2 separate regions of the Homo sapiens genome follow, and region 2 is reported to be linked to region 1. Evidence: microRNA targets listed by miRTarBase, many of them from high-throughput screens and not tested one by one. Region 1 holds a microRNA gene; the other region holds the end of a gene's coding sequence.

Evidence for each region. Region 1 holds the annotated microRNA hsa-miR-6720-5p (UUCCAGCCCUGGUAGGCGCCGCG, at 3,526-3,548, opposite strand). A microRNA usually pairs through its seed, bases 2 to 8, with sites in the 3' UTR of a target mRNA and lowers its output. Matches are read on the target gene's strand: a 7mer-m8 pairs with bases 2 to 8, a 7mer-A1 pairs with bases 2 to 7 and ends in A, and an 8mer does both.
Region 2: the mRNA of SSH2 is a reported target of hsa-miR-6720-5p. The part of its 3' UTR that is shown has no 7-base or 8-base seed match.

What each region holds. Positions count from the first base shown.
Region 1 is chr6:1,386,834-1,392,010 of GRCh38, forward strand. MIR6720 (microRNA 6720) reads right to left here and starts at 3,578; the gene lies at 3,481-3,578. FOXF2 (forkhead box F2) reads left to right here and starts at 2,743. Exons shown (of 2, transcript NM_001452.2): 1 at 2,743-4,285. The coding sequence starts at 3,115. It overlaps FOXF2-DT (FOXF2 divergent transcript), which reads right to left and starts at 2,628. Exons shown (of 3, transcript NR_187218.1): 1 at 2,186-2,628. RefSeq lists an enhancer at 3,925-4,790.
Region 2 is chr17:29,626,562-29,631,561 of GRCh38, reverse strand. It overlaps SSH2 (slingshot protein phosphatase 2), which reads left to right. Exons shown (of 16, transcript NM_001282129.2): 16 at 1-5,000. The coding sequence ends at 721. Among named protein-coding and RNA genes, the nearest start is that of CORO6, 6.2 kb to the right of the region's middle.

The DNA of each region.
Region 1 (5,177 bases):
GCCTTTTAAAAAAATCCCTCATAATTTAACCAGCTGAATTGGTAGAAGCTAAAAGAATCTGGGGTTTTTTGCTTGTTTCCTTGTTTGTTTTAATGAGTACCTGTGGACTTCCTAAAATCTCAGGCAAGTTGGAAGTATTTTTCTGGAAACTGGCTCCATAGCTTCCATCGTATTCTCAGAGGATGACCCCATAACCCCAAAACTGGGAGCTACTAGTATAGAAGGTTATCACTGGTCCTGCCTGGATTTTAAGGTTAGCGCCTTTTATTCTTCAGTCTCCGGGTCCTAAAACCTTTTAAGGCCTGCTCTTAACAAGTTGGATCTGTATTCCCTGAGATCCAAATACATATAATTTTCAGGCACAGAGAATCAGAGAGAGTCCATGGCTAAGTGACAATGAGTACTGAATGTTTCCAAAGCCCGTTGCCCACCGCCCCCACCTACAAATGAGATAATTGTCCTTTTCCCCCACAAGCTTCTCCCCTGGGCTCTTTCCATTTAAAGCACACACACACACACACACACACACACACACACACTGAACTCTATGTCAGTAGAGCTCCTTTAAGATCCTATCTGTCCTCCCCACTCCAGCTTCTATTTTATGAAAATAATTATATTTTAGGCACTTAGAGCATTGGTTTAGTGAACACATTATATTTACTTTCATATTTAGTTATGTATTTTTAAGTTATTCCACACAAAATGACAAATGAGGGCAAGAGAAAAAAATACCATGAAATATATGGGGACGCACCCCCCAAAAACGCTCAGCAGTCAGTCAGAAATTCTTAGAAAGTGGAAACAACTGCGAAGCCCTACCCCAACCCAATCAAAACATCCCACCCGGAAAAGAGCGACTTGTTTCTTTTTTCTATTGGAAATGAGTGGTAAACTGAGTTCGGTTTGGCGGTGTTTTCTTAGCTGACTCTCGGCTACAATCAAGCCATTTTCGGACACATTCCCATGTAGGTACCAGGGGTGCTCTGGAGGAAGCTGTCGACGCCTGTTCAGCTAATTTAGGTTTTCTTTGTCTAATTACTGTGGAGCTTAGGGAGAAGGAGCCGGCTCAGGGCAGTAAACTGACACTCGGTCTCTGTGTGTGGTATCCAGGCAGGGTTTGATGGAAAAAGCCTGCTTCCACTCAACCTCAGGTCACTGTCTGGGGCCAGCCCCGGCCCACCCCCCTCCCACATACCCCTCCCCTCCCCACCCGCCCTCTCTGCATCTACAGCCCCACCAGCACACTCAGCCAGGAGCAGTCCCCCGGCACTCCAGGGGCACACAGGGCTCCTGCCGCCCCAGGGGGCCTGCCTAGGCTGTGCGGCTGTGAAGGCTCTTTGCCTGGTGTCTTCCTCCTGATTACTGCACAACCTCCCTTTCTCCTGCCTCCTGCAACTCCCCAGGCTCCCCAGCAGGCACACCCGTGCACCTCGGTCCTTTCAGCCTAGACGCAGCGGGGTGCCCAGCTCTACCTCCTGTTTGGTCCGCTGGTCTGCAGCACCTTCTTTCTGGGCCTCCCCCTTCAGCCCTTGGGAGGCCCCGCCAGCTCCGGCCTCCTGCTCTCCTCCTCCCTCTCCCAGCTCCTATCCCTGGTCGGACTACATTTCCCTGCACGTGTAATCCAATAACTAACTGTCGGGTCTCATTGGAAGTGATTGCTCCCGAGGGCACATCTCTCTCAGAGCCTGACTCTTACTTAGGGAGGAATTAGCCACAACTGGGGAGAAGTGTTCTCGGACAGGAGTTAGCTGAGACCTGGCACAGTTTTGGGTGGGCAATGTTAAGACGGAGGATGTAAACCTAGTGACAGCTGCACACCCCTTCAGGACTGACTATAAATATAGCCATCTCGCTTATCTCAGGGTCTTTCTTTTTCTTTCTCTTTCTTTCTTTTCTTCCTTCCTTCCTTTTTCTTTTGCACTTTTTTCTTACAGAACACTAACTGGGGTGCGGGGGTGGGGGGAAGAAGTGGAAGCAAATGCAACCCTAAGTCCCATGAGATCCAGGTTTCCAGAGTCTTTGAAACTTGGCCTAGGTTTCTCAGTGTAAATCCCTCTGCTCAAAGTTCCGAAAACGTCCACGATCGCCAGCGGCCCGCAACCCTGCGGCGGCCCCCAGTCGCCCTAACAATTGTCGGGGAGCCTGCAGGCCCTGCCAGAAAGAGAGAGGATTGGCACGTTACCTTTGGGCGTCTGGCACCCCGGCGTGTGGCTGAGGGCGGCAAAGTCTAAACGAAGTTGACAGATGGAGTCAGTATCGGCCCTGGGGAGGGCGGCCAGGGAGGCTCCGAGCAGCCGCACCCGCAGCAGCACCACTCGGCCCGGCGGGCCAGGAGGAGGAAGGGGGCGCGGAGGGGCGGGGCTGGGTCCTGGGATGGGACGCGGGGCTTGCTGCGGGGGGCAAACAGAAAGAATATTTCATGAAGTCAGAGGTGGTCGAGTTTTGCGAGGGGTGGGGGTCGTCCCCCTGGCAGAACCGGAGTGAGTCTGTGATCCCTCAATTGGAAAGAGGGTGAGTGAGGGAAAGGGGAGGAGGCCGCGAGAGGAATGAAGAGCGAGGAGACCCTGGAGAGCGGGGAGCGAGATAAGAGAGGGAGGCGGCCGCCAGGTCGGGAGGGGGAGGAGTGAGCGCGGCGGCGCGGAGCGAGGAGGGGGCAGGGCGGGGTGGGGGGGGAGGGAGGGAGGGAGGGAGCGAGGAGGGCGGCCGGGGAGGGCGAGGGAGGGAGGAAGTCCGAGAGACAGAGCGAGGAGCGCTCCTGAAGGGAGACGTCGGGCTCGTCCCCGGGGTCCAGGCCGCGGTCCCACTCGCGGGCGCAGTCGCCCGGCGCCGGCCGCTCGGCCCCGCGGCCTGGGAGGCCGTTGCGCAAGGCAGGGCCCGCGGCTCGGGGAGGGATGCGCCGGGCGTTGCCTCCCGCCCGCCGCCGCCGCCGCCGCCAGAAGCCCCAGAGGAGCTGAGGGAGGCGACGCCGAAGCGCTGGCCCGGAGTGGCCACGGCTGCAGCCCGGGCGGCGGGCTAGGGCGCTCGCAGGGCTTCTGGGCCGACCCCGCTCCGGCGCCTCCGCTTCCCGCCCGGGGCCCGCCCTCGCGGCCCGGCCTCGCTCCCGGGTCCCAGATGACCACCGAGGGCGGGCCGCCGCCGGCCCCGCTCCGCCGCGCGTGCAGCCCGGTCCCCGGCGCGCTCCAGGCCGCCCTGATGAGCCCGCCGCCCGCCGCCGCCGCCGCCGCCGCCGCCGCCCCGGAGACCACCTCCTCCTCCTCGTCGTCGTCCTCCGCCTCCTGCGCCTCGTCCTCGTCCTCCTCCAATTCGGCCAGCGCCCCCTCGGCTGCCTGCAAGAGCGCGGGCGGCGGCGGCGCGGGCGCCGGGAGCGGGGGCGCCAAGAAGGCGAGCTCGGGGCTGCGGCGGCCCGAGAAGCCGCCCTACTCGTACATCGCGCTCATCGTCATGGCCATCCAGAGCTCGCCCAGCAAGCGCCTGACGCTCAGCGAGATCTACCAGTTCCTGCAGGCGCGCTTCCCCTTCTTCCGCGGCGCCTACCAGGGCTGGAAGAACTCGGTGCGCCACAATCTCTCGCTCAACGAGTGCTTCATCAAGCTGCCTAAGGGCCTCGGGCGGCCCGGCAAGGGCCACTACTGGACCATCGACCCGGCCAGCGAGTTCATGTTCGAGGAGGGCTCGTTCCGCCGCCGGCCGCGCGGCTTCAGGCGGAAGTGCCAGGCGCTCAAGCCCATGTACCACCGCGTGGTGAGCGGCTTGGGCTTCGGGGCGTCGCTGCTGCCCCAGGGCTTCGACTTCCAGGCGCCCCCGTCGGCGCCGCTCGGCTGCCACAGCCAGGGCGGCTACGGCGGCCTCGACATGATGCCCGCGGGCTACGACGCCGGCGCGGGCGCCCCCAGCCACGCGCACCCTCACCACCACCACCACCACCACGTCCCGCACATGTCGCCCAACCCGGGTTCCACCTACATGGCCAGCTGCCCGGTGCCCGCGGGACCCGGGGGCGTCGGTGCGGCCGGGGGCGGCGGCGGCGGCGACTACGGGCCGGACAGCAGCAGCAGCCCGGTACCCTCGTCCCCGGCCATGGCGAGCGCCATCGAATGCCACTCGCCCTACACGAGCCCTGCGGCGCACTGGAGCTCGCCTGGCGCCTCGCCTTACCTCAAGCAGCCGCCTGCCCTGACGCCCAGCAGCAACCCCGCCGCCTCGGCAGGCCTGCACTCCAGCATGTCCTCCTACTCGCTGGAGCAGAGCTACTTGCACCAGAACGCTCGCGAGGACCTCTCAGGTAACGCAGCACGCTCCAGCCCAGCCAGCTGGGCGCACCGCTTCTAGGCCTCCAGGGCTGGCGGCCACTGCCACTCCCACAAACAGGGACCCCGAAGCTAGGAGGTCTGAGGGCACTGGGAAAAGCAGATGCTGGGGAAAGCCGGCATCTTATTCGTGGGAGCAGGGATCAGGGTCTTACTGTCCTCCCAGTATCCCTGGCCAGCAGCCGAAGCTTCAGAATTGTCTGGCTGCTGTGAGCGTGGTGTAAAGTCCCCTGCCTTCCTGGGCTCTTTGGGGATCCCTGTGCAGGAGACTGCAGGTCTCCCGTTCAGAGTCTCACTTAGCTTGGAGAGAAGGCATCTGGCCTTTGGGGAACTTGGTCAGGAAGCTGTGTCTAGTTCCTTTTGTCCCTTTTTTTCCTTGCGTTCATTTTGCTGTACTTCTGTCCCGAAGTAAATGTCAGAATCAGATATGTTCTGTATGTTGGGGTGTCTGCAGCGAGATGTTTGCAGCTGGGCAAGTGTTAAGAGGAGGGGGTGGGAGGGACAGAGCTGGATCCCAGGATCTTTCACTAAAGGGACATTTGCCAGTGGAGGGGGTCACCAAACTGTTGGAGACTCCTCCCCTTCCCTGCCTCCCCCCCCGCCCAACAATGGACCCACATTGATGATACAGGTCCTGGGTGGCAGGACCTGAAGGACCCTGCTAGGACTCCCCTGAGAAATGCGCCTGCCCTGTGGATGCCACTTGTAGTGTGGCTGGTTTACATTGTTCTGGTTGCAGATTATGAAAAATTATTGACTTGCTGAAGGCGGTGAAAGGTGGGAGGGGACGGTAGGGATGGAAGAGGGAATTTGAATATTTGACCAGGTTAATGTGAAGAACAGAGATAAACCCTTACATTAACCCCT
Region 2 (5,000 bases), not on the chromosome of region 1:
AGACCTAAGTTTAATTAGCAAACTTGGTGACAACACTGGGGAGTTACAGGAGAAAATGGACCCATTGCCTGTAGCCTGTCGACTCCCACATAGCTCTAGTAGTGAAAACATAAAGAGTCTCAGCCACAGCCCCGGTGTGGTGAAGGAGCGTGCTAAAGAAATCGAGTCTCGAGTGGTTTTCCAGGCAGGGCTCACCAAACCATCCCAAATGAGGCGCTCAGCTTCTCTCGCCAAATTAGGTTACTTGGACCTCTGTAAAGACTGCTTACCAGAGAGGGAGCCTGCCTCCTGTGAATCCCCTCATCTCAAACTGCTTCAGCCTTTCCTCAGAACAGACTCAGGCATGCACGCGATGGAGGACCAAGAGTCCCTAGAAAACCCAGGTGCCCCCCACAACCCAGAGCCCACCAAGTCTTTTGTAGAACAACTCACAACAACAGAGTGTATTGTGCAGAGCAAGCCAGTGGAGAGGCCCCTTGTGCAGTATGCCAAAGAATTTGGTTCTAGTCAGCAGTATTTGCTCCCCAGGGCAGGACTTGAATTGACTAGTTCTGAAGGAGGCCTTCCCGTGCTACAGACCCAGGGACTGCAGTGTGCATGCCCAGCTCCAGGGCTGGCCGTGGCACCCCGTCAGCAACACGGCAGAACTCACCCCCTTAGGAGACTGAAAAAGGCAAATGACAAAAAACGGACAACCAACCCCTTCTATAATACCATGTGATTCTGAGCCTACACATGTGACTTTCTAGAAGAAATGTTTGTAAAAGGGGCAGGTGTAATATGTAAGGAACATGCACTTTATTGGTTAATTTTATAATATTTTGGTCATTTTACTGTTTCTGGTGCATGCAGGGTTTGGGTGTTTTTCAGTGTGTATGTGTGTGTATATGTAAGGGGAAAGAGAGATTGATCTGGATGGCAAGACCGTTTATCATTTTTTATTTAAAAAAATCAAACCTCAAAAAAGTCATTTTCAGAGAACACCTTTATCAAAGGCAAATTGCTGTTTTTCAGTCAGCTGCCACCTGCTTCTCATTTTGCCCTCTGAGAAAAGGCATGGTTTCTTAATTGAGGGAAGGAAGCAGATTCGGAGGGGTGGAGATAAAGCTGGGGATTGGAGATGTTCCCCTGCCTTTGTGATGATGGTTTGGTTTCCAGACCTGAGGCATCGAATGGGCTAAAGGTCAGCCAGAAGTCAGAGGGCTCTCAGCCTTCATCCAGCCGCAGCCCTTTAGAGTTCCTGAAGGAGGCAGGTTCCGCTTTGCTTTAAAAGAGGGTCTTCCGGTGTTCCAGAGTGTATCGTTACAGTAAGACATGATAATGGCCGGCTCTGCAAATTTATCATATAGTTTTTTTCCCAAGAAAATTATTTTTGAAATTAAAACAGGACCCCAAATGAAATCCAAGTGGTCTTCTGTAGAGGAAAGCATGATAAGAGGAGGAAGACATAAAGTTGGGGGTGGAGAGGCTGCTGCCCAGAAACTGCTGGGTTGGTGGGATCCACACAGATGGGCATCTTGGCTCTCCCTGCCAGAAAAATGTGCTCTGCAGTGTCCTCCCAACTGAAAACAACAGTGACATGTTTGAAAAGCAGCAATCGAAAGTCAGTGTGTTCTTGTAAAATGAATATGTATGTAGGGTTTTAACCCTTCCATTACTTGAATAATTCTTTGGGCCTTCTGAGTTTAATGGCCATATTTTCTTCCAGTTTATTTTCCTTCCCCATGCTGTTGTCCCCATGCTGCCTATTTTTTTAAATTTCATAGATTATATTTGAATTGTTACATATGTTTAACATCCATTGAATGCAACGTTTTATTTTTGGTATTATCACTGTTAACACTTTTTTTTCCTTTTCCTGGAAGGTTTGTCATTTCTCTAAAGTTTGTACACAGTATTTATGTACATAATATTGTCACTGTCTTAGTGTCTTGTTCATGTTGTAGGGTAATTTTGATTTATTCTTTTTAAGAAGGAGTAGAGTTGCAACTGGAAAACACAGACACCAGAAATGAAAGTGTTGGGTGTTGATAGGAATCTGTACAATATGTTGATGGTGGCTGTAGTTGTTTAAATGGAGACTTCCAATCACCAGCTCCTGCCAAATTATGCATTAGTAACTTTTTCCTCAGAGACACCCCTAAAGGCTCCCATTAGGTCACAGCGTGACTGAAAGCTGATTTCTCTGTGAGACTGAAATCCCAGAACATTGTTTGCCAGTATCTCAACCACAGCCAGGAAGTATATGTGAGTTGCCCAGAGTGGAAGCTCCTAGTAGAGGCTGAAGGCCACAGGGGAGGCCTCAGCCAGGGGCAAGTGCCCACAGTGACTCCATTTAGGATGCTGTCGTTTTGCTACTGTTGTGGAGATCCTTAACGCAGCAGCGCCTGTCATAAACAAGCCTCTTGTAGCTTCTTACAGAAAACAGATTTAGTCTAGCATGAAACACCTCTGCATCTCATTGAAACTGAAGAGGCTTGCAGATTTGCTTTCGTTGATGTCCACGTTACTGAGGATTGACTGAGTATAGACTGGAGACAGGTTTTTGGCTTATCACAGCACTGAGGAAAATACAAATGCACAGACTGTCAGCATGATGTCAGAGGCCAGAGTTTGGTGGGGGCAGATGGCAGGGCGACCCAAAAGATGCAGAAAAGGTAGACTGGGGCCACTGGGTCTTAAGAGGAGCTGTGAAGTTGTGTGGAAGCCAAGGCTGGGTCTGACATCCCTGCCAGGAAGCAGGTTGGACAGAAACCACTTGCTAAAAGCGTCTCTATGGTGCAGTGATTATGTGTACCCTGTGCTGTTGCTCAGTAGTCTCCTTGAATGTTCAAGTATCTCATCCACTCAGTTTTGTGATTCCTGGATATTTGTGTGTTGTAAAGTGTTTTGTTAGGTGGTATGAACCAATGTGAGGAGGCTTGAGACAGGGTTATGGATTTCCAGAGCTCTTCCATGTAGAATACCCTGCCTTCTTGAAGCAGTTCCACCACCAATATGATGGGGAAGGGCAGGAACTTATGGCAGGGTGGGGAGAGGGTTTGCCTGGAAGTTAAGAGAGTGGCATCCACTTGTGGTAACCCCTTACGATGATGACATCCCACACACTAAGAGGTACAAGCAGGACCAAAGTTTTGGACTGTTCCCTCTTCTCCCCTCCACTGTGTTTAATGTTCACTCACTGCATTAAATAACAACAAAGATGGGACAAAACCCACTAATACTGTGGGGAAAAAAAATTTTCAAGAGCAGAGGAAAGTCTTTCTGCCTTTTTATAATTACTTTTTTTATCATTTAATTTACCTGCCTAAATAAACATCTTCTACAGAATATCTGTCATTCAACCATGCCAAGGAGTTTGTGCCAGCCTTTTCAGACTCCCAGAATTGGGTGTTCCTGGGTTATTTACATAGCTGAGCAGTGTCCAGGGGAGGTGCGCAGTGAACTGTCAAGGACTTTCCAGACTGTCTTCTCTTCAGACTTTTATAATCTCCAGTGGCATCTTTCCCTTTTCTTTTGTTCATGACCTGACCTGAAGCAGCAGATTTGATAGACTGGCAAAGATGAATAGGAAAAACTTTGACTCTTGCCCAGTGCCTGCCTGCCTCTCTCTCTCTCCTCTCTCTCTCTCTCTTTTTAAACCACCATAGACTCTCACTTATTTTGGAGGAGTGTATGTGCATGTGTACACATATGTACATATATAAAAACAGTTGATGTTTTGGTGTATGGGGTAAAAGCCCCAGGAGCATACAGAACTTGAGCTGAACCTGGTCAGTAGAAAGGGAAACCCCAACCCTTTCTTGATTTTTGGAGACACCCAGGACTAATGGATACTGTAGTAGACATGTAGTACTATAGTACCGTAATATTCATCTCTCCTCATTTTAGTTGCCTTTCAGATTCTAAATGTTTGGGATCATTCCTATCATCTTAGTCTCTTCAGGATCTTTAGTATTTTCCTGGTTCTGAGGAGGCTTGAGACAGGGTTATGGATTTCCTTGTTCTGTGTCTTTATCCCTACTGATAGTTCCTCTTTCTCATTTTGCAAACTACCCAGAGCTCCAAGGACAGCCTGAAGATCTCAGTGCCTCAGGCTCTGAGGTACTCTGCTCACAGGCCCCAGACAGATGCTGTTGGGTAAACTCAAAGCTTCCTATGAGAAGCTTCTGAGATGTAGCAGGTCACAGAAGTGTTCACCTGTTTCATCTGAGGATTTCAGTTCTGAAGTGATCTAGGCATGTTTGGTAAAAATGTTTTTGTGAGAGTTCTTTTTTTAAGAAAGCATTATGCAAAAAGTCACTTTTAAGGGCATTTAAAAATTTTTAAGTAAAGCCATTCTTTGGCTTTTTTGGACTATTTGTGGATACTTTGTTTACATTTTGAATATTAAAATGTGCATCATCTTGTCGGCCATGCAGTCCTGCAGGCATCAGTGCCCTGGCTGTCCTGTGAGTCCTCATGCAGAGCAGGGCCATCATGGTCAGCCCTTGTGAGTAAGTGGGTATACGCTGAAGCTGACTTCCGTCTGTGTCCTGCCCTCCCATCCAGCACTCTCTATGGAAATAGTTGTCATTTCCTCAGTGATGGTGTGTCTTATAGTGATGGTTGTAATGGTGAATGGCTAGTGTCATTTTGTTTAATTTTGTTTTGCTTTTTGATGGTGGATAAGATGAAATTTTAGCTGTTTCAGCATCAATCCAACTTAAAAGCATCTTGGACTTTGTTTTCCCTTCCAAACTAAAAGATCAAGGCATGTATTAGACACAAGCATATTTGCTGCCTCAACTCCTCTGACACCCATATTAGGAAAAGGCCTGCCACCAAAGCAGGAAGCTGCACACTCCTAACCCTTCTCCCAGGGTGTGGGGTCCCTTGACGTCATGAAGAGCTATTGCAAGGTGCTTCTGTACTTTTCCAGCCTGGAAATGGAGGGTGACTGGCCCTGGCTCCTGCTATGAGAAGATAACCAGCCTCATTTTCTCAGTGCCCCAGAGGTC